Homo sapiens: one gene and its partners. The protein of the gene in region 7 purifies or fractionates together with the protein of the main gene of each other region. This does not show direct contact. Each region holds a gene or a part of one and is shown on either strand. Other genes may lie near its edges.

What was found.
Region 1: the proteins of PINX1 (region 7) and C1orf174 purify together in Homo sapiens (co-immunoprecipitation; one large-scale study listed by IntAct). This does not show direct contact.
Region 2: the proteins of PINX1 (region 7) and ALB purify together in Homo sapiens (affinity purification with mass spectrometry; 2 studies listed by BioGRID and IntAct, with this or other methods). This does not show direct contact.
Region 3: the proteins of PINX1 (region 7) and PABPC4 purify together in Homo sapiens (affinity purification with mass spectrometry; one large-scale study listed by BioGRID and IntAct). This does not show direct contact.
Region 4: the proteins of PINX1 (region 7) and FXR1 purify together in Homo sapiens (affinity purification with mass spectrometry; 2 studies listed by BioGRID and IntAct, with this or other methods). This does not show direct contact.
Region 5: the proteins of PINX1 (region 7) and TSR1 purify together in Homo sapiens (co-immunoprecipitation; one large-scale study listed by IntAct). This does not show direct contact.
Region 6: the proteins of PINX1 (region 7) and CAPRIN1 purify together in Homo sapiens (affinity purification with mass spectrometry; one large-scale study listed by BioGRID and IntAct). This does not show direct contact.

The regions. Positions count from the first base shown.
Region 1 is NC_000001.11:3,893,773-3,897,272, forward strand, and holds part of C1orf174 (UPF0688 protein C1orf174), read right to left. Parts: exon of another isoform or gene 1,523-3,500; intron 1-1,522.
Region 2 is NC_000004.12:73,407,287-73,410,786, reverse strand, and holds part of ALB (albumin preproprotein), read right to left. Parts: intron 2,194-3,500; coding exon 1,982-2,193; intron 1,433-1,981; coding exon 1,300-1,432; intron 476-1,299; coding exon 378-475; intron 1-377. UniProt on the Homo sapiens protein: Binds water, Ca(2+), Na(+), K(+), fatty acids, hormones, bilirubin and drugs. Its main function is the regulation of the colloidal osmotic pressure of blood. Major zinc transporter in plasma, typically binds about 80% of all plasma zinc.
Region 3 is NC_000001.11:39,563,554-39,566,790, reverse strand, and holds part of PABPC4 (polyadenylate-binding protein 4), read left to right. Parts: intron 1-1,412; coding exon 1,413-1,685; exon of another isoform or gene 1,686-1,721; intron 1,722-2,017; coding exon 2,018-2,105; intron 2,106-2,248; coding exon 2,249-2,368; intron 2,369-2,868; coding exon 2,869-2,955; intron 2,956-3,049; coding exon 3,050-3,177; intron 3,178-3,237.
Region 4 is NC_000003.12:180,943,670-180,947,169, forward strand, and holds part of FXR1 (RNA-binding protein FXR1), read left to right. Parts: intron 1-3,500. UniProt on the Homo sapiens protein: mRNA-binding protein that acts as a regulator of mRNAs translation and/or stability, and which is required for various processes, such as neurogenesis, muscle development and spermatogenesis.
Region 5 is NC_000017.11:2,321,896-2,324,176, reverse strand, and holds the end of TSR1 (pre-rRNA-processing protein TSR1 homolog), read left to right. Parts: 3' UTR 1-303; coding exon of another isoform or gene 304-522; 3' UTR 523-831; coding exon of another isoform or gene 832-1,041; 3' UTR 1,042-1,781; downstream 1,782-2,281. Other genes in the region: SRR (serine racemase), read right to left, coding at 304-522, 832-1,041. UniProt on the Homo sapiens protein: Required during maturation of the 40S ribosomal subunit in the nucleolus.
Region 6 is NC_000011.10:34,089,731-34,093,230, reverse strand, and holds part of CAPRIN1 (caprin-1), read right to left. Parts: intron 3,053-3,500; coding exon 2,942-3,052; intron 2,703-2,941; coding exon 2,553-2,702; intron 1,326-2,552; coding exon 1,175-1,325; intron 1-1,174. UniProt on the Homo sapiens protein: mRNA-binding protein that acts as a regulator of mRNAs transport, translation and/or stability, and which is involved in neurogenesis, synaptic plasticity in neurons and cell proliferation and migration in multiple cell types.
Region 7 is NC_000008.11:10,815,876-10,819,375, forward strand, and holds part of PINX1 (PIN2/TERF1-interacting telomerase inhibitor 1), read right to left. Parts: intron 1-3,500. UniProt on the Homo sapiens protein: Microtubule-binding protein essential for faithful chromosome segregation. Mediates TRF1 and TERT accumulation in nucleolus and enhances TRF1 binding to telomeres. Inhibits telomerase activity. May inhibit cell proliferation and act as tumor suppressor.

The DNA of each region.
Region 1 (3,500 bases), on a different chromosome or scaffold from region 7:
TGTAGTCCCAGCTATGTGGGAGGCTGAGGTGAGAGGATCACTTGATCCCAGGAGTCTGAGGCTGTAGTGAGCTATGACTGCACCACTGCACTCCACCTGGGTGACAGAGTGAGACAGTGTCTCTGAAAAAATAATAATAATAAAATAGTACAGGGAGTTGCCATGTAGCCTTCACTCAGCTTCCACTAATGTTAAACAACTACAGGACATTGTCAACATTAAGAAATTAGTGACATTACGGTACTCTTCACTAAACTATAGATTTTATTTGTATTTTATCGGTTTCTCCATGAACCGTTTTTCTGTTCCAGAATCCAGTCCACAATACCACACTGCACTTAGAAAACTCGAAAGGAATGAGTGTGAGTAGTAGAAGCAACAAACAGGAGCAATGCAGGTTGACATGGCCGGGAAAGGCCCAAGAGCTGCTGCCAACAGGCCCTAGAACTGGAACCCAGAAGGGGACGGATGAAGAGTGCCCTGCCCAACAGCAGATAAGAGAAATAAAAAAAGGAAAAAAACAAAAAAATAAAACACAGAAATAATCTGTCTCGGCTGGGCGCGGTGGCTCACGGCTGTAATCCCAGCACTTTGGGAGGCTGAGGCAGGTGGATCACAAGGTCAGGAGATCGAGACCATCCCGGCTAACACAGTGAAACCCCGTCTCTACTAAAAATACAAAAAATTAGCCGGGCGTGGTGGTGGGCGCCTGTAGTCCCAGCTACTTGGGAGGCTGAGGCAGGAGAATGGCGTGAACCCAGGAGGCGGAGCTTGCAGTGAGCCGAGATTGCGCCACCGCACTCCAGCCTGGGTGACAGAGCAAGACTCCGTCTCAAAAAAAAAAAAAAAAAGAAATAATCTGTCTCAGCCATGCACCCCGTAGCCCAAGACAGCTCCAGAAACCCTGTGGGGTGGCAGCTCCAAGGTCCTGTGATACTGTGGCAGTCAGAGTGTGTGTCTGAAACAGGAGGGAGAAGAGCAGGCAGCAGCCCACCGGAGGCCAGGACGCCCGCCTGCTGTACACAGGACACGCCAGTTGCCCACAGGCTGGGTGAAGTGCCTGCTACCACAGCACACCGGGGGCTGCGCCTCCGTCCTCTCACAAGGGCAGGGCTTTGCTGAGAGCCCCGGCAGACGTCATGGTCACAGTTACACCAAGGGGACTGAGGCAACAGAGGTTACAGAACTTGCTAAGAGTTGCCATAAACATCTCTCATCAAAATCCTCCCACTGGGTCTTAAACAAGCCCATCTCCCTAAAACGCCATCACGTGCCTCGTAGGGAAAAGACATCTCTGACCTAGAAAGCCACTGCCCCACCTCTCCTCCCTGCTGTGAGCCCTCCTCCGGGCGCTTTGCTGCTCTGTGCTGGAGTATGCTGTGTGGGGAGCCCAGCTCGGTGCCTGAACAGCTTTAAAGGAGTGGCACACCCATTTCAGATGAGGACAACTTGGGTAAGGAGCTTATGAGGTTATACGAGTGATGCCTGGCTTCCAAATCTCTATTCCATCACCACAGCTCACCCTAGATATGACCCCCAACAACTGCCTGAGGTGGGGATTGAACTGAAGAAGCTGCCACCCGCTCTGTGTTCTACGCCTGCACGTCTTTTCCCGCAGCAGGTGCTTCTCAAGGCTTCTGTCAGCATCTTGGCAGCAGTGGTTCTGAACTTTTCGCGTGCAACAGGTTCATCAGGTGGACCTTTTGGCCCCTTCTGCAGAGAAAAGCCAGATGATCTGCTGGGCTGGAAGCGCTGGCTGTTAACAGACACCTGAGGATCTGGTGGGCCTGGAAGCGCTGGCTGTTAACAGACACCTGAGCAGGCCATTTGCTGTCCTCTCCGGATTGACAGGAGTCAAAACATGAGATCGGCTTAGCTTCAGTTTCGTCATGGATTAACCACCTCCAAGGTGTCAACTCCAAAATGTCAAGAATTGGTCACAGTCTCACTTGCAGATTCCTGCTCTGCAGCTGGGCAGCTTGGACTGCTCCCACAGTCCAAAAAAGGAAAGACTTTCTCATCATTGAGATTCTCCTCATTCCAGTAGATTGTTTAATAACTGGTATGTCAGAAGCACAAACATGGTTTCTCCAAAAGGGCTGGCCGAGACTGACTTCAACATGATGGCTCGAGGAGCTTCACTGACCTTCTCAGAGAGTAATGAGCAGTCCCAAAACAGCCATTTAGAGAGCCTTTGGAAATGGTCCTATGGGCACCCAGCAAATGAAGAAACACTTGCTCCAGAACACCTACATACATTTGGTAAGGACACGGAGAGTCTGTGGCACTTGAGCTCCATCCTGCTGCAGCCAAGAACACAGGGCCACCTCCCCAGCTCCCAGGCAGCGGGGTGTCTTCCCAGGAGAGGCAGGATAGCAGTGCTTCCCTTTCTGCTCTCATCCCACCTGTGACTGAGACCAGGTCCTGAGTGAGTAGGATTGAGAAGAGGGGCCCTCCTTTCTGCTCAGACCCTATTTGTAGAATGAAGGCTTCACCTTGGCTCCATTCTACCAGTACGGTTTAAGCCTCTGCAAGAGGCTCCGCCCAGTGAACGGAGAAGACTGGGGCCCCATCAACCCCGTCCTAGATATGAGGTGGTTCCAGGCTGGGGAAGACACATTTGGAGGATCTCAGGCTGCTGCTAGCTCCCCCAGCCCCTATTCAGAGAGGAGCCCATTACTGTCCTCAGCTGCAGGCCCTGGCTCAGAGGCTCTGCCTGGGATGAGAGGCAGGCAACTAAACAGACAGCTCTTACACCTGCCCAAAGGCACCAAATTCCCTGCCATGGAATGTGGAGAAGTTCCGGCCTAAGGGAGCTGTTCAAGTACCGTGGATGCTGTGACGAAGGGGGTGGAGGCAGTGGAGAATCAAGCAATAGGCCAAATTGTAGGCCAACCAGTTCGCAGAAGAGAACCAGAGACTAACACGGCTGGGAGGAGGCCTCTTGGACACAGAACAAACTAACCAAACACTGACCTTAGAAAGTATCCCTTCGAAGAAGCCACAATTTGATTGGATTAGTTTGTAGAGCAACTTATGCCCAGGCTGTTGCTGAGAACAGCACAATAACCTGGCATTAGCGAAGTTCAACAGCTGGATGTGGTCAGGGAAAGAGGAAAAGGACCTCACTAAAACCACTGTCATCCAGAGTGGCTGGGTGCCACCCCCCACCAGCAACATCACAGGCTGAACACTGTGGCAGGGGAAATATACTTTATCAAAACAATCTACCCAGTTGCTAAACAAATAAGCATATTAACAATGACAAGCCCCAGGGTTGGGGACAGTACCCAGAATTGCTAAAATGTATTATCTAAAATGTCAAAAAAATTATGAAGGCATAATTCCAACAAAAAATTATGAAGCACTCAAAGAAAAAGAAAAGTAGGCTCATACACTGGAATAAAAGCAGGCCACAGAAGCTGTCTGTGAGAGTGACCAGATGTTGGATTTATACATATATAAAGGACCAAGGTAGCCATGATAAACAATATCAAGAT
Region 2 (3,500 bases), on a different chromosome or scaffold from region 7:
GTATCCACAAAAATTAAAAATAACTTTAAAAAATTAAATAAAGAACCATGCCTACAGCTCTATAAAAATAATGAACCATTAGAATAAGAGTCCAAGATTTTATAAATAAATAGAACTTAAATATCTGTCCCTTTTTTTAGGACAAAAAGGACAGCGTCCTCTAAATTATTCAACTATTTAGAAAAGAAAAGATTAAAAATAATGTCAAATTGTCATTGATATTCTGATTTTTACCTCTATTAGAGTTCTACCTGTTAGACAACCAAAGAAATGTATTTGACAGCACTTTGCAAAATACATAAAAATGTACAATTTGTCACTGAAGCATTATCATTTACATCGTTATAAAGATGCCAACTATGTTTAAAAGTATTTACCATGCTTTGAAAGCTCTTTCTCCAAATTTTTGGAGACTGGCACACTTGAGTCTCTGTTTGGCAGACGAAGCCTTCCCTTCATCCCGAAGTTCATCGAGCTACAAAAAGGAATAATTTGATGAAAATTAGAAGAAAAATTCTACATGAAACACCCCTCCATAAGCTCAGATGAGACTGTGCCAAATTAAATTTTGAAGGCATAATTTATGCCTAAATTCCCAAGTACTCCCTTTAGCGAATAATGATTTTGCTCTCTAAGAAAAGGAAAGATCATTCGATCATTCTGGTCACAGCGGAATTCCCTATGTAGTTAGAAACCAACTGGAAACATTGCCAGGAAAAAGAGCCTTAAAAGTGGGAGAAAAGTCAGAGAAAGAGTACGCTAATATCCCAGGGGCTGCAATTTTGCTAATTTTTAAATTTTGTGTATAATTCATTTCAGTCTCTCCTCCACCAACATCAGTAAACTCCTCAGAAAAGAAAATAAAGCATTCCATAATATATATTTATGGAATGAATGCATGAACTCAGGCATCTAGATGCAGTAAAATTCTCTACTTTGAATTCCCTCCCTACTAAAAATTATCATGAAAAGATAAACAAGAACTGTGGCCCCTTGCTGTGCAATTTGACAAACAAGTTTCAGTATTTCACTATAGTGATCACCACCATAAAAAGTGGTGAAATCTTTAAACACATGCACAGTGATTACCTCTGACAGATCATCATTGGCAAATCTTAAAAGAAGAAACGAGAGTGTAGGCCTTCAAAGATGAAAGATTTTCAAGACAGATAAAAGGAAGGCTTTTTTGACCATGTCGGAAAGTTTGTATCAGACACTCAGGTTCCCTAAATCTAGCCACAAAATGGACAAAATCAGGTTGGATAATGAACTCTTTTTTTCTATTCTTTTGCATAATACCTTTGGCAACAGGCAGGCAGCTTTATCAGCAGCTTGGCAACATTCTGTAAAAGCAGCTTTATACCTTTTAGCAAAGAAAAGGAGTTCCGGGGCATAAAAGTAAGGATGTCTTCTGGCAATTTCATATAAGTATCTAAATTTTGAAAAAGAAAAACAGTCACTTTTCTATAGCAGACAATATTACAGAAATAATTGTAATCGACATTCTCCCCAGAACCTCCAAATTCCAAAGATATCTAATTAACCAATTAAGCTCAATTTGCACATGATGGTCTTGTCTCTGTCATTCTTTAAGTATGTGGAAAAAAGGGTTAAGTGTGTGTGTGTGTGTGTGTGTGTGCATAAATGGTTAAATTTTGGCAATATAATGTTGCTGACTAAAACGAAATCAATTATAACAACCATATATACATATCTTCGTAATACATTAAATAATTTGTCTATCTTAAATTTTTCAGAAAGATTGTATCCTGTTTCAATAAACTTCAAAATATCTTTGATCATATTTTTTGCTGTGTAGAATTTTGTGGTATCAAATACTACTTCTTTAAAAAATCATCATAACAAAACTTCCAAGTCTTAATGTTGAAAATATTTTTGTTATGGTAATTTTTATAGAGTGTTGGCCTATGGAGTTACTCCATGCTTTTTAATTTTGAACTATAAACATCTGATTACTTACTTTTTCAAAAATGTCTCTTCATTGTCATGAAAAGCAGTGCACATCACATCAACCTCTGGTCTCACCAATCGGGGGAGGTTTGGGTTGTCATCTTTGTGTTGCAAGAAGCATTCATTTCTCTCAGGTTCTTGTTTTGCACAGCAGTCAGCCATTTCACCATAGGTTTCACGAAGAGTTGCAACTGTGCATAATTTGTCTCCAAAAAGGGTATGCTAAATGGAAGAAAGCAGGTTTCAGTTGCTGGACAGTACCTTTTTTCTTTATAGCCAAAGAACAGTACAAAGGATTTAATATACTGGTTAAGCTTGGTCAGGAAATCATTTAAAAATCCGCTTCCCCTCCCAATCGAGGTTTACAGTTTCTGATGATTTAACCATCTCTATATAATTTTCATAAGAATTAACTGTCACACTATAACTCATGGTGAATAAAACAGGACAAAAAGACAGTCAATAGCTTTAAGGAAAGTTATATGACTCCTATTTTGAAACTTAAAACTAAAGGGTAAGAGCAATCATTATAACAGAAATCAAGAGAAAATAAGCTTCTAAGCAGCAGGTGAATTCACCTAGGGGAGAAAAACATTCAGAGAGTTTCTCATTTCATTTGCCCCCTTTTTAGAGGGCCATGTTTTAGTATATGCCATTGAAAACTGAGGAGTAACACAATCCATCATATATTAAGTGACTATTAAGATATAGACATTTTTCTTCCAGAAATGTTACCTAAAATCACTTTCCAATAAATGAGTCCTTTCCTTATCTCTAATTTTTATTATGAAAGTAACTGTAACCCCAGGGAAAATATACTACTCTAGACAGAATTTATTAATTTTTATGTATTTTTAAGATTTCATATGTAGAGCCATAGTATTGTGTAAAGTTAAAGTCCTGACTCTGCTGTGAGGGAGAGGTACATAATAAAAAGGGGAAAGGCTCCAGTGATAAAAACTGGCCTTGCCCACAAGAGGTATATATAGATTGAGTGGTGAGAGAAAGATAAACCTGTCCTTGTTTTGAAGATTGATCTGGAAATACTAAAAGTTTAAAGTTCTTCAACATGACTAAGTACTCTGCTTTTTTATTGTATGTAGAAATACAAAGATATCTAAAATGAGGAATATATAGCTGTACTATTATTCCACCCAGGTAACAAAATTAGCATAGAAATCAGTGGGTGTTTTCTGATGATAAAAACCATGATATCATCTCTAAGAGATAGTAGCTCTCCTGTGTTCATTGCAACACTATTCATGATAGTCAAGATGTAGAAAACCAACCTAAATGTCTATCAATCAACAAATTAATGGATAAAGAAAATGTGGTACACACATGCACTGGAATATTATTCAGCCTTGAAAAGAAGGAAATTCTGCAATAGGCAACAACATGGTTGGACTTTGAATGCACTATGCTAAGGGAAATAAGTCAGTCATAAAAAGATAAACAGTACATAATACCACTTATATAAGGTAGCTAAAGTAGTCAAACTCATAGAATCAAAGAGTATAATGCTGGTT
Region 3 (3,237 bases), on a different chromosome or scaffold from region 7:
TCTATCCTTGCTTATCTGCCTAGTAGTCAAGTTGGCATTTGTTAAGAGAGCAGAAGAGCCATACCTTGAATTGTCCCCATTTTCATTATGATGGTGTGGCATTTTTATTCACATACCTTACTGGCCCATCTCATTGGTAGAGAGTTATGGAGTGATGCACTTCTTTACTTCCCTATCCTCCACTTCAGGAGGCTCTCTGGGCCATTAACTAAGACATAAAACAATGACAGTCACACCAGAGAAGACAGTGAATAACCTTGTCTATTAGGAAGAATGCCATTTGTGAATGATGAACTTAATGTGGGAAAAGACTGCCTGAACCAGTAGACCTGTGGTTTTGTAGCTGTTTGGAGTATTTCTTGGAAATTGAGCCTCAGGAAGGCAAGTGAGACTAGAATCTAGGCTGCCTATCTCTGAGCTGGTCATCTCATTGAATTAATGGTGGCAGTCATTGGTTACCTGAACATTTTAGGACTCCTGTCCACACGTGGTATTCCAAAAGTGTTATCCTGACGTTGGTAAGAGCTTGTTAGAGTTTGTCCACCGAGGTCTTGAAGCATATGAGATATGAAAATAAATTGCTCAGTACTACTCTCAAGATGTTTTGTGGTTACCCGGAGTAGCTATCCACCAGGTATCAGGAAACATCTTTGAGTTCCTGGTTTTATTATTAGCCATATCATAGTGTTTCAGAACTTTAGCATCACCTGGGGACTCAAAGAAAACACCTAGATACCTTAGAGGTTGTGACTTAGTTGGTCTGGGGTAAATCCTGTGCCAGAACCCTGACCTAGACTCAGTGACTGCAGCAGAACCCAGGCTTTCTGGTTCTTCTGAATAGTTCCCTCCCCACCCAGGGACATCCTTTTTTTTCCTATTTGTAGGTTTGTTTTGTTTTTTTTGTTGGTTTGGTTGGTTGGTGTTTTTGTTTTGTTTTGTTTTGTTTTGTTTTGTTTTGTTTTGGAGATGGAGTCTCGCTCTGTCGCCCAGGCTGGAGTGCAGTGGCGCGATCTCGGCTCACTGCAATCTCTGTCTCCCGGGTTGAAGCGGTTCTCCTGCCTCAGCCTCCTGAGTAGCTAGGATTACAGGTGTGTGCCACCACGCCCAGCTGATTTTTGTATTTTTAGTAGAGACGGGGTTGCACCATGTTGGTCAGGATGGTCTTGAATTCCTGACCTCGTGATCCACCCACCTCGGCCTCCCAAAGTGCTGGGATTACAGGCATGAGCCACTGCGCCTGGCCCTTTGTTTTTTTGAGATGAGGTCTCACTACATTGCTCAAGCTGGTCTCAACCTCCTGAGCTCAAGCAGCCCTCCCACCTCAGCCTTCCAAAGTGCTGGGATTACAGGCACAAGCCATCACACCCAGCCAGGGACACCTTATTTCTTAAGTAGCTGGTCTCATTTTGTAGGTAATGCTGGAGGATGGAAGAAGCAAAGGGTTTGGCTTCGTCTGCTTCTCATCTCCTGAAGAAGCAACCAAAGCAGTCACTGAGATGAATGGACGCATTGTGGGCTCCAAGCCACTATATGTTGCCCTGGCCCAGAGGAAGGAAGAGAGAAAGGCTCACCTGACCAACCAGTATATGCAACGAGTGGCTGGAATGAGAGCACTTCCTGCCAATGCCATCTTAAATCAGTTCCAGCCTGCAGCGGGTGGCTACTTTGTGCCAGCAGTCCCACAGGTGGGTGTGCTGTTTGGTCACAGCTCTTGGGAACCTGCCGGCTGGCAGTATTCTGCAGTGGTTGGGGAGAGGGATTTTTCGTTATTAGAGTTCTAGAATGTCACAATAAGGACCCTTCAAGTAAAAATGAAGGACTTACCCATGGTCACAAACACACACCCACAGTGGCAGTGGTAGCATAAAACAGTCCCCATTAGCTGACCCCTCAGCTCTTGAATAGAAAGAACATTTAAATAATTAGCTTAGGTCCTGGTTAGTGAGATGAGATGAGATACTTCTCTAGGATGGGTTCAGTCCTTAAGGGGGTGTTTGGGTATTCTTCTGTCTTACAGGCTCAGGGAAGGCCTCCATATTATACACCTAACCAGTTAGCACAGATGAGGCCTAATCCACGCTGGCAGCAAGGTGGGAGACCTCAAGGTAGGTGGTGGGGAACAGTAATTGACAGCCCAGGATATACCTGTCCTGGTCTCCCCTGCCTTTCCTTCTTCCCCACTCTGAGGCACAGCCTAGGTTCTGGTCCACATCACTTCTCAATGATGTGCAATTTTTCTCTTCACCAGGCTTCCAAGGAATGCCAAGTGCTATACGCCAGTCTGGGCCTCGTCCAACTCTTCGCCATCTGGCTCCAACTGGTAATGCTCCGGCCTCTCGTGGCCTCCCTACTACCACTCAGAGAGTCGGTGAGCAAACTGGCCTTTAGAAGTGTGGCCTGGGGAGGAGGGAGTCAGGATGACTAGGCTCTGTCCTGGGTTGGTCAGTTTGTTGGGCTCGAATTTATCGAGTCCTGGTTCTGTAATCTTAGCTGTGTGCTTAGGTGGCCACTTCAGGAGCAGAGAAACAGTATGAGTTCTAGGTGTGTCAGTTGCTTTTAACATTCTTTGCTCATCGGTGACCTATGTGAAAAAGGTTAGTTGTAGAAGTTTGCTAGCTGGATGACCACAGAGGCAGCTTGTTCTTTTGGGTGGGGTGAGGAATACAAGGAAACAGTGTATACAGAATATGTCTTGTATTCCAAGATGTGGAAAGAGTTGTATGTTATCCTTTGGCTCATCCTCGAAAGTAGTAGTGGCCCCCTGTGCAATGTGTTGCGTAAACGTGCTTTGAAATTTCTCCTTCCGTGGGACGTGGCCAGTTGGACATCTGCCGCCAACACTGATGTGCATTTGCTGGTCTGTTGTAGGGTCTGAGTGCCCGGACCGCTTGGCTATGGACTTTGGTGGGGCTGGTGCCGCCCAGCAAGGGCTGACTGACAGCTGCCAGTCTGGAGGTGGTATTGGATGCACACAGAAGGGGGAAAGATGGGATTTGACGGGTCTTTGCCCAGACTGATGGGCTTTAATTGTATTTGTTCTTTCCCTAAGGCGTTCCCACAGCTGTGCAGAACTTAGCGCCACGCGCTGCTGTTGCTGCTGCTGCTCCCCGGGCTGTTGCCCCCTACAAATACGCCTCCAGTGTCCGCAGCCCTCATCCTGCCATACAGCCTCTGCAGGTGAGGTTCACCAGACAGAATGCTTAAAAGGATTTCCCCCATTTCCACTTGATGTAAAAG
Region 4 (3,500 bases), on a different chromosome or scaffold from region 7:
AAGTTTAAAATGGAGTTCAGCATTTCATCGTTCAGTGAGAAAAGCCTCCAGGCAGTTGAGATGGTTTATTTAGAAAGCCAGATTCATGAATGATTATGCTTTGGTGAAAATAGAATAAGGGGGTTAGGTAGTTTTAAGACATAACATTTTCAGCAAATGAGGCTTGATTTACCCACATTAACAAGAGATATTCGAACTGCCTCTCTGAGATAGTTACTCGAATGGGCACCTTCTTTTGGTTGTTAGGATATTCTTTTTTTTTTTGAGATGCAGTTTCGCTCTTGTTGCCTAGGCTGGAGGGCAATGGCGCGATCTCAGCTCACCGCAGCCTCCGCCTCCCAGGTTCAAGCAATTCTCCTACCTCAGCCTCCCGAGTAGCTGGGATTACAGGCATGCACCACCACGCCTGGCTAATTTTGTATTTTTAGTAGAGACAGGGTTTCTCCATGTTGAGGCTGGTCTCGAACTCCTGACCTCAGGTGATCCACCCACCTCGGCCTCCCAAAGTGCTGGGATTACAGGCGTGAGCCACCGCGCCCGGCCTAGAATATTCTTTTTGTAACCCTCAGTATACTTGGGAAAACAGTCATCACTGATCGTTTACCAAATAATTTTGTAGCAGAAAGAATGAAAGGGTAGTAAGGTCGTTATTGGACCTTTTTTTTTTTTGAGACAGGGTCTCGCTCTGTCACCCAGTTTAGAGTATAGTGGCATGATCATGGCTCACTGCAGCCTTGACCTCCCAGTCTCAAGTGATCCTCCTTCCTCAGCCTCCCAAGTAGCTGGGACTAGAGGCATGCACCAACCACACCTGGCTAATTAAAAAAAAATTTTTTTTATAGAGACGAAATCTTCCTGTGTTGTCCAGGTTGGTCTCAAACTCCTGGGCTCAAGCAGTCCTCCTGCCTCAGCCTCCAAAAGTGCTGGGATTACAGGCATGAGCCACTGTGCCCCCCATTATTAGACTTTTTTAAAGGCCATTATTGACTCCATGCTGGAGTATAGTGAAGCAAACACAACTCACTGCAGCCTTGACTTCCTGGGCTCAAGAGATCCTTCCACCCTACCCCAGGCCCCCAAGTAGCTGAGATTACAGGCACATGCCACCATGCCTGGCTAACTTTTGTATTTTGCATAGTGATGGTGTTTCACCATGTTGTCCAGGCTGGTCTCGAACTCTGGAGCCAAAGTGATCTGCCCACCTCAGCCTCCCAGAGTACTCGGATTACGGGCGTGAGCCCCACCACGCATGGCCTTATTAGACATTTTAGTGAGGGTTTAAACATAGCAAATCTAACTTTTTCATATTTTCCAGGTTTTGATGATATATGTATCTACAATGAATGCAGTTCTCTAAATGTAACTAACTGCTCACTGTTATACATGAACCTAGAACATACCAATCTTATAAATATTGATAGCAGATTTAAAATATATCTCTAATAAATTCTAGCTTATTCTGGTTATTCTTACAGTTGGATCATCAGAATGCAGTCCTTGAATACTTTGGAACTTTTAATGACATCTCATTCTATTGAAGAAGGGATAGCCATCTCTGTGCTGTAATTTTAGCACATTTAGTCAGTTGGATTGACTAATCTATTGAATATTTTTGCATTTCATTATCTTTCTTTTTCGAGTTACCTTTGTATACACATCTGCTTTTGACATTTCCACTTACGAAGTACATTTTGGCACACAAACATTTCTTAAAATTTTATCTTCAATTTTTATTTTACCTTTTTTTTCCCCCTGGACAGGGTCTCGTTCTGTCACCCAGGGTTGAGTGTAGTGGTACAATCTTGGCTCACTGCAGTCTCAACTTCCCAGGCTCCAGCAATCCTTCCACCCTAGCCTTCCATGTAGGTGGCACCACAGGTGCACGCTACGACACCTGGCTAATTTCTTTTGTATTTTTGATAGAGATGGGGTTTCATCATGTTGTCCAGGGTGGTCTTGAACTCCTGAGCTCTCAAGCAGTCGACCTGCTTTGGCTCCCCAAAGTTTTGGGATTATAGGTGTAAGCCACCGTGCCTGACCACAAACATCTTAAAAGATGGAAGAATACTGTCATATACCCTTTTAGCAAACCAGGATGATCTGGGTTCTTGTTGGAGGATTTTGCATGATGGAGTCTCAGTTGAGTCATTAACTGGATGAGAATACACATCATCTTTCCCTCTTCTCCTTAGAAATACATTGTTTGAGAACAATGTTTGAGAAATACATCGTTTGAGAAATACATCGTTTGAGAAATACATTGAGAACATTCATCTAAGATGTCACCATCTCAGACTTCATAGTCTGAGGTTTTGCTTTGTAAGATAATTTCACATTTATCAGTACTCTTTGCATCTGTTGTCTGATATCTCTAATAATTAGAAAGGCCTTCCTCTGTAAATTTTTCTTCTCTTCGCAATTATGAGTGAAAAAAATTCATAATTATCAACTGGTCAACGGTAGCTAAAAGCAGACTACAAGGATGGTGTCTTTGGTCTTTTTGAACTGTTTTGAAAGAGATGTGATACCTCAGGCTATGCAGTAAGGAAACTGTATGAACATTAACAGTTTATTTCACTGTTGTATCCTCTAGGTGATGCCATCATTCCTCTGTTCCATTTTAGTCTTTATTTAAAGCATAGCTGAGAATAACTGATGAATGTTGATGAAATTGTAAAGTGTTTCAAGATATAGGAAAAATAAGATCACTAGATTCTACCTTACATTTATAAAAGGGCCCAGTGGATACATATAATAATTACAGAATAAGGGTGAGTTCTGTTCTAGTCTTAGAGAAGTAAACTTTCTTGTTTTTTGGAATATGTCGTAAGGAAGAATATAAGTCATGAGATATTGATCCCTTTGAATAGTTAGATCTGTTTATAAAAGAAATGGAAAAGCTAAAATTGAGTTTAACGGACCCTGATTGGTATATTGGACTTCCTGCTTTTTCTCATAGCTTTTTTCTAATCATGGTATACGATAAAGTTCATTAGTAGGTTTTGGTTTATTCATTTCCAGTTCCAGTATTCCTACCACTTCCAAGATTACTCTCAAATCATCCTGATAGAAGCTTCAGGCTTTCTAAAAGTCTTTGTTTTTAGTTGTTTGTGTTTATCTCCCAGATGGCTGTTAACAGCCACTGATAGGTTTCCCTGATGATCTCTGCAAGGACAGTCAATCTTGGTTTTTATTGGTTTTTAGTTTCTTCTCAGCCCCCCTTTTCTACCTTTCTCTATACTGAAAATATAATACGTTAAAGAAGCTCTGCTGTGTCATAAGAAATAACTCTAATCCCAAGTGAAAGCTTCTGTGACCTATTACGTTAATAAAACTGATATTTATAGATATAAAGAATATGACTTGTTTTTTTGTGGATAGTTTTTATTTTGTTTTTTTTGAGATGGAGTTTTGCTCTAGGTGCCTAGGCTGGAGTGCAATGGTGTGATCTCTGCTCACTGCATCCTCCACCCTCTGGACATGATTCTCCTGCCTCAGCC
Region 5 (2,281 bases), on a different chromosome or scaffold from region 7:
TCTTACCGGTGCCAGTCAGTACTCCAGGGATGGGAGGCACAAGTTGTGATTGGGCAAAGTTTATTTTCTATGTCAGCCTGTCAGTCCACTGCCCCATTTTGCAAGACTTTTTTTTAGCCTTGACAAAATGTCTCAGTTAAGTATAAAAGTTTTTCCACTACTTAGTCCAAAAAAAACTATTAAATCTTAATGAAATAGCCACTCTCCATTAAGAATCTGATAACTAAGAGTTGACAATACTAGGAAACAAAATGTCTTCAGTATCTAAAGACACTGAATTCCCACCATTTCCTTTTCTGTAAATTAAACAGAAACAGACTGATAAGAAGCTGGCCTTTCAGCCTGCTTCACCCAAGTTATGGAGGAGGTTAAGTCTACATTTCCACCACTGAGCACAATACAAATGTTCTTTACTTCTGGGGAAACAGTTTGAAAATGTTGAGACAGCACAGCAGCCACTCCAACACCAGCTGTAGGTTCAATGAGTAGTTTCATCCTCTCCCACACCAGCTGGGTTGCACACTGTTGATATGGAAGGGAGTAGGAATTAGTGAAAGGGGAGTCTAGTTGGTTTACCTATAAAGTTCAGATGAGAATACGTGTCCAGTTTGAATTTTCTTATCACTGTGTACACACGCTTCCCAAAGCTTTTCTTTAATTCTGACTCTGCTTCTGTCAAGAGGGTTGTCATTAATACATCTAGGGTACCCTCCCATGTCATGAAGTTACCTAGTCAGGTTCCCGTGGGTCACTTGCTACTCCTAAGGGAAGTTTCTTCTGCCTAAGAAGTTACACCATGCTTTGCTATTTCTTTTCTTGCTGGAGCCTCACCTTAATTTCATCCTCTGTGACAGTGAAGATATCATCCACAAGGTCCCTGATAATAGGCCAGGTGTTCAAGCCAATGCTGGATTTGACACCATCTGCTATGGTTTCTGGAGGATAAAGATTGGGCATCAGTTTCCCCTTCAGCTTGGACTGGTAGCAGTCATCTGCATTTGAGGGTTCAGCAGCATATACCTTCACACTAGGTTTCAGAGCCTGGGAAGAGGAATATTAAGACATCTTAACAACAAACCACAACATTGCCTGCATGTCTAAAAGAAAATATGGGCCTGGTGTGGTGGCTCACACCTGTAATCCCAACACTTTGGGAGCCCGAGGCGGGTGGATCAGCTGAGGTCAGGAGTTCAAGACCAGCCTGGCCAACCTGGTGAAATGCAGTGTCAACTAAAAATAGGAAAATCAGCCAGGCGTGGTGGCAGACCCCTGTAATCCCAGCTACTCAAGAGGCTGAGGTAGGAGAATCACTTGAACTTGGGAGGGGTAGGTTGCAGTGAGCTGAGATCACACCAAAATGGGGTGGGGCGCAGTGGCTCACGCCTGTAATCCCAGCACTTTGGGAGGCCGAGGTGGGCGGATCACGAGGTAGGGAGATCAAGACCATCCTGGCTAACACGGTGAAACCCCGTCTCTACTAAAAATACAAAAAAAAAAAACAAAAAAAAACTAGCCAGGCATGGTGGCAGGCACCTGTAGTCCCAGCTACTCGGGAGGCAGAGGCAGGAGAATGGCGTGAACCTGGGAGGTGGAGCTTGCAGTGAGCCAAGATCGTGCCACTGCACTCCAGCCTGGGTGACAGAGTGAGACTCCGTCTCAAAAAAAAAAAGAAAATAGGCACAATAAGTAATACATTTCTGCCCAAGTAAGAGCCTTCCCTTTTGTGGATGTAATGAAAATATCTTCAAGCACTTTATAAATAAATTATATGTCTGATACTAGCCTTCCATTGCCTGGATCACATCTGATTGTCCTGGTAATTTGAGAAAAGGGTAGCCCCTTGGTATGGATAGTAGCTTGATGACATGGAATTCAGGGAAAAGACTATGATGGTGTCACTTGTAACTGCTTTTGTGCTGTAAAATTGTCATGGATTAAGAAGAGAGTTGGCTGGGTGCGGTGGCTCACACCTGTAATCCTAGCACTTTGGGAGGCCAAAGTAAGGACTGCTTGAGCCCAGGAGTTCCAGACCAACCTGGCCAACACAGCAAGACCCCATCTCTTAAAAAAAATAAAAATATTAGAAATAATAAATAGGCCGGGCGCAGTGGCTCACGCCTGTAATCCCAACACTTTGGGAGGCCAAGGCGGGTGGATCGCAAGGTCAGGAGTTCAAGACCAGCCTGACCAACATGGTGAAACCCTGTCTCTACTAAAAAAAATACAAAAAAATTAGCGGGGTGTGGTGGCTCATGCCTGTAATCCCAGCTACTCAGGAGGC
Region 6 (3,500 bases), on a different chromosome or scaffold from region 7:
GACAGAGACCCCATTTCTTAAAAAAATATATATATAAAAAAAAATCTAAAGTATCTCTATCGAGCTAGACAAGGTAGTTCATGCCCATAATCCCACCACTCTGGGAGACAGAGACAATAAGTTCGCTCAAGGCAAGGAGTTGGAGATCAGCCTGGCATCATAGTGAGCTCCTGGAGACCCTATCTCTACAAAAAAAAAAAAAAAATTAGCCAGCCATGGCGGTAAGCACCTGTAGTCCCAACTACCAACTACTCAGGAGGCTGAGGGAGGAGGATCATTGAGCCCAGGAGTTTGAGGCTGCAGTGAGTTATGCTGGCATCACTGCACTCCAGCCCGGGCAACAAAGTGAGAACCTGTCTCAAATACATAAAAGCGTCCCTACCTACATTACTATCGTGACAGGTATGGTAACTAGCCAAATTATGACCTTACTTGACAAAATAGATTATGTTTCAACCCAGTCCACGAAATGCAGCCACCATGAGTTTTTTCTTAACTTTGTCTAACTGACTCAATGCCAGATATCATGCTAAAAGCCTTCAATCAATTAACAATTAAAAGTATAGTTTATCACCAGGTGCAATGGCTCACGCCTTTAATTCCAGCACTTTGGGAGGCTGAGGTGGGCAGATCACGTGAGCTCAGAAGTTCAAGACAAGCCTGGGCAACATGGTGAAACCCCAACTTTACCAAAAATACAAAAAATTAGCTGGACGTGGTGGCACATGCGTGTATTCCCAAGCTACTTGGGAGGCTGAGGTAGGGAGGATTGCTTGTGTCCAGGAGGCAGAGGTTGCAGTAAGCCGAGATCACGGCACTGCGCTCCAGCCTGGGTGACAGAGTGAGACCCCATCTCAAAAAAAAAAAAAAAAGTACACTTTATGGTAATTCAAGTAACAAATTTAATTCCATATAAATTATACAATGCAACAGGGATATTATGTAAGTTCAGTGACAAAAGGAAAATGGCTATAAAGCCTCCAAAAATTGCACATAATTCACATATACAAGTACAGACTCAATTTAACTCATGATCTGAAATGAAAAATTCATATGGTCTGCTACTAAAACAGAAACTCTTGGACACCACCACTCTGAAGTCTAAACTGTCCTAACACTGTCAATAACTGTGCTGGAAAGCAAGGAGCCAATGAGGTGACACTGGATTTCGTACCTGTTTGAAGCTGTTCTTGCTGAAGCTCTGTTTGTTCTACTTGGTGAGGCTGACTAGAAAAGCTCTGGTTATAACTGGCCTGGTACTGATTTTGCTGTTTTAAAGTTTCTGGTTCATTAACAGGAGGAACTGGGGCATTCATATTGAACACCTGTTAGTAAATAAAGTAAATGATTAGTTCATCCTTTTATTCTCTGGTTTATAACATGGCCAAACTCAATGGTGGTTTTACCTCAGACATAAATAAAGACATCACAGAGGTCTCAAACACAAAAACATCACACACACATACAAAAATCCCTCCAAGTGATTCAATGTGGAAAAAGACATATATACCATATAGTACTTAAAGGGGAGTATAATATGCTGTGAAATGGAAGTAGGGAATTAAAAAAAATAAAAAGACATGCAATCAGCAGCCTTGGAAATGCTTTTACATATATGAGAAATCTTTTTAAAAGACAAACTCTGGCCTGGCACAGTGGCTCACACCTGTAATCCCAGCACTTTGGGAGGCTGAGGCAGGCAGATCATCTGAAGCCAAAAGTTCAAGACCAGCCTGGCCAACATGGTGAAACCCCGTCTCTACTAAAAATACAAAAATTAGCTGGGCATGGTGGCTTATGCCTGGAGTGTCAGCTACTCCAAAGGCTGAGGCATGAGAATCGCTTGAACCCAGGAGGCGGATATTGCAGTGAGCTGAGATCACGCCACTACACTCCAGCCTGGGCGACGGAGCAAGACTTTGTCTCAAAAAATAAATAAATAAGACAAACTCCTGGATGCAGTACCACTTACAGAAGTTTGTTCTATGAACTTTAACAGGGTTGAATGTTTTTTCATTTTTATTAACATATTAATCAAAAGTTATTTTAATATTTAATCTTATGAACTTTCCTCTCAGCACCGATTTAGCTGCACCCCACAGATTATAGTATTATTATTATTTTCTAGAAATTCTCTAAAGGTGCTTGCTCAAGAATCAAGGTAAAGCATAACATCTGAAACTTCAAAATACTTCAGTAAAATAAAAGATTAAGCAAACAGGGCAACTATTAAATCTAGGTAATGATTATATGGATGTTATATTAGTCTATTTCTCTGAATGTTTAAGCTTTTGTTAATCAAATCAAAAGGGTAAAACTACAAATTAAGATGATACAGGCACATCACTCATAAGGCTAAAATTTATCTCTAGAATATCCGTTAGTATCAGTTAATCTCTGGAATAATCAGTTTATGTTCAATTAAATATACCCTACAGTTAATGAAAGATGCAGACTCAAGCACAGTTAAATGAAGACCTTTAAAAAAGAAAAGAAAATCTACCATGATTCATATTACATACTAGGCAATTAATGTTAGTTAATTTGCTTACCGTTTGCATGGATTGGAATGGAGCTGCATTTACATTGATTCCACTGCTATGTAAAGGTTTGCTTGTCCCAGCCTGAAATACTTGAGGCTGAGACGCAGCAGGAAGGGATGATGATGCTGTAGTCTGGTCTGTATTTAAAGAGATTGTTGCCTAAACACAAAGTGAATAGATGCACTTTAGCGGTAAACTAAACTTAGCCAAACAAAAAGTGAACAGATGTACTAAAGTGGTAAATTAATCTCAAACTTATATGTATTAACAAACTCAAATATTTCATGAAAGCAAAGTAGGTCCAAAAAGAAGAATCATTATATTAATGGTAATGTACATCTGTTCAATTCATGAGTAAGTGCCTCATCAAATGTATGTGACCCGGTAACAGAACTTGCCTGAATCTGATCAATTGGTTCCTTCTGTGGTCGTTGCTCTGTAGCATGAGAAGGCTGGTACAAGGGTTGAGATGCTGTGTACCCCTCACTTGTGGATGATACCAAAGGAACCTAGACATAAGTAAAGAAATAAAAGCTTCTTCCTGCTTACAAAATTGACTGTTAAAAAAACAAGTTACCTCTAAGACGCATAAGGCTAAGAAATAGATACAACTGCTAAAGAAGGGAGAAATTAATATTACCATCTCTCTTTAAATTTGTATAATATAAAACCTAAAAATTGCAAAAATATATATATTTTTGAAGCTCGACGTTAAATAAACCCAAGTCTCGTTATAAAAGCCCTCCACAAGTACTTCTAAGATGGAGAAATCTGCACTAAATTTTAGAATTATGTCTAAACTATGTCTTCTGAAATTCTCAGTTCTAAATAAAAAAGGCTTATTATATTATAATACATTATTTAAAATGCAAGACTTAAGAAAAACTTAAAAAGTCATCAAGAGGAAAAATGAACCTAAACATAAAAATAAAGGCTGACAGCTATCCACAACAATAA
Region 7 (3,500 bases):
CACTGAGCATGGCTAAGTGCAGGAAGTAGATCATGGAAACGACAATCGGCCTTTAGCACTGGGTAGTGACCCCTGCAGATCTGAGCAGCCTCAGCATCAAACGGAGAGACCATGTGGTCTGTACACACGATATTCCACTCCTAATCAGACGATTCTGTCGGCAGCTGTGATTGTCAGGGTCACGGGCGGTGTTGGAGGGGTATGCAACTATGATTGGGGTTAGCACAAGGGAGGCCTTGGTGGTAATGAAATAGTTCAGGATCTTCACTGAGATAATAATGGTTACACAATCCACAAATGTGATAAAGGGGCACAGAGCTGTATGAGCAGATGGTACCAATGCCAATTTCCTGGTTTCATCATGCTGTACTGTAGTTACGTAAGATGTAACCACTGGGGAAAACCAGATGAAGGGTACACAGAACCCCTTTACTATCTTTGCAACATCCTGTTCATCTATAAAAAGTTAAAGAAAAAACCCTCATGACTATTAATCAAGGGCTGCAGATGTTTCTTAGATATAAATACATTCAGATCATCCAGTTCAATAGAGAGACGAAAAAATACACAAGCAACACAACATCTATGCTCCAGATGCTCAAGCTCTTTCTTAATTCAGCCTCCAGCCAATAAGGAAGTCAAGTCGTTCTTCAGGCTGGCCTGGACACCTGGTCACATGCTTGTCAACCCCTAACAGCTCACCTCTGACTACAGGTAAGGTAAAGAAGTTTTGAAATTTAAACCATTATTTTCCACAAAATAGCAACAGCCAATCATTTTCCCACAAAGTTACGATACAGCATCAACCACTGGTGTCTCTGGTGAAGCTCAACAGAAGCTGCTAAGGCCTAACTAACCCCCTTCAATGTAGATTTTTTGTTAAATGAGAAAGAGTTCATTAACTTCGGCAGGACTGCTGTATTATCGGAGAAAGGCTGATTTTGGAATTGGACGGACACAGATTTAAAAGCCCACGTGTGCCATTTTGGAGCATTCTAACAATTCTCTCTGTGCCTCAGTTTCCTCACTGCTACAGAGGAGATACTGATATTTACATGACGGGATTGCTGTGAGGATGAAATGAGAAAAATCCAGCACAGGGTTTGGCACACAGGTGCTTAATAAAATTGGAATTCTACGATGGCAGTCAGGAGCTGTAGAAATTAAAATCAGTAGGCTTCCCTTATTGCAAGGGTGATGCTGTTACCCAAGCCAAGAACATGGTTAACGCCAACGTTCTGGAACTCTGGATGCTGAAGACAGATCAGCATCGGCACCTAACTAGAGCACCCACAGAGCTACTGCTACCTTAGTGGCCCGCACTACCACGGTTTCCAGGACTCTGGAGGGAGGTGACCTCCAGCAACACCTTGGCCTCTGCAATGCCAAATATAAATCCAGACCGACGGAGCTATGAGAGTCAAGCGAAGCAACAACATACAACATTCCCGCCAACTGAGGATGGGAGCCGAAAGAGGTTGTATTTTCAAACAAATCTGATCAAAGTCCTCCTGCCTTTGACTATAAGGGCTGTTGTAACTAACAAGGTTAAGGTTTCTTAGCAATAGTCTACTCAAGGAAGGTACCGGTATACCTCAATAAAAGCAAACTTAACATATGAACATCCACAAGGATGTCAAAGATAAATGTAGAGGTCATTTTGCTTTATAGAAAGATACTCTGTTTGTCTTAAATGTGATTACATTTAAATAGATTCTGTTTTCTGCACACATGCAGGCATGTCAAAAGGAAAATACTGCCTAGACGCGACCTCCTCAGTGTGGCACACAGGTCAGCAGCAGTATCACCTGGGGGCTCCTCGGATGGGGATGTACAGGCTCTCAGCCCCCGCCCAGGCTTCCTGAGTTGGAATCTGCAGTTTGACAGGGAAGACCTGTACACACGGCAGGACTTGAGGAGCTCTGTCCTCAGGGTTACTCACGACCCGGAAGCCAGAAGCTCTCAGTACAGCTGCATGGCAGGCTATCCCCGTGTTCTCAACCCTCGCTCCTTACTGAACGTCAGAATAACTGCTGCAACAATTGGGGAGGAATTAAAAAAAAATTTTTTTTAAATTTTTCTCCTTTTGTAATATAGATACCTGGACCCTGACCGAAGATTTAATTTAATCGGTCTTGGGCAGAACCCTGGCATTAGCATTTGTTTAAAGCTCATTAGGCAATGCCAGGACGACCTTGTTGAGAACTATGGCTACAGACGGAGAGCAGGGCCTGGTAGAAGACCACCTCACCAACAGGTAGGACCTAAATTTATCACTGGAAGAAAACACTGAACTGGAAGAGAGAGAGAGATGTGACTAATGGAAATCTCACACAAAACACGATGTTGCATCAAGGTTGATCATCTCTACACACACTGGACCAAAAGAGATTTTCCTGGGGCTAGCATTAGGGAACTGCTTTTGAAGCTCCTCAAACACAGGTGGATGTCTCACTTTAACATGACTTAGCTACCAAAGAGTCAAGTAACACCACACAGTGTTGAAAACCTCAAGGCACCCAACACCCAATAAATTCTCAAACAGAAATCTGCCAGAGGATCAGAAACCTCTGATCTCTTACAACTAAGAGCTTTCTGCACCAAACACATAAATTCTCTTAAAGTTCTACAAAAGCCCACAAGTAACATTTCCCTCCCTGATCTGTTCAACTGTACATTTTCATAGAGGGTGTCCGGGAGGGCAAAGGCTGGGGGTGGTGGGTGAGCAGCAGGCAGAAGAGAGGATCAACGTGCAGGGATGTGGAAACGCCAGTACAGAAGGCACGTGAGCCCCACGGGGCTGGGGAGATGGGGGTTATCTCAAGGTATGGGAGGGACGTGGAGTTGATACAAAGGCTCAGGGTGTGATCGTGGGGTGGGGGCAGCTGTTGGGCAGAGCAAAGGAGATGGAGTTCAAGAGGCGCGGGACTGGAATTCTAGTTCTTCCTGAGGACACGGAGACGACTGAGAGAGTCAAGGAAGAGGGGTTGGAGAGGAGGCTGGGATAAGCCAGAGGCCATGTCCTTGGTGAACAAGGAAGAGTGGCGTAGTCCAGGTCTCACGGTGAGCACTGAGGGCAGAGGTACAACCAGAAGCCAGCCTGTCTGACCATGGCTCTTTCCAGCAGCCCCTTGTGAAGGAGCAGCCGGCACGGCCGGATGTCAGAGCGGCTCCTCCCTAGTGACCACTGCCTATCCCGTGACTCAGCATAGTCCGCGCAGGCACCAAAGCCAGGTATCCTTTCCCAGCCTGCTGCTTCCATCTGCTGAGGGTGCAGGGGCAGACAGGGGCTAAAAGACCCAGGAATTCAGTCCCAATCTGCACAGGGAATCATCTAATGAGACTTCTAACCACTGGTAATTCTGGACTCCCTAAAAATTATTACTATTAAGAAACAAACCACCACCCTAGAAATAAAGATTTCTGTCAGTCTGGAAAAATGCCAGGAATCAATAAACCAAGTCTTCTTTTTTGTTCTATGGTCACCAAGGGCCCTGGCT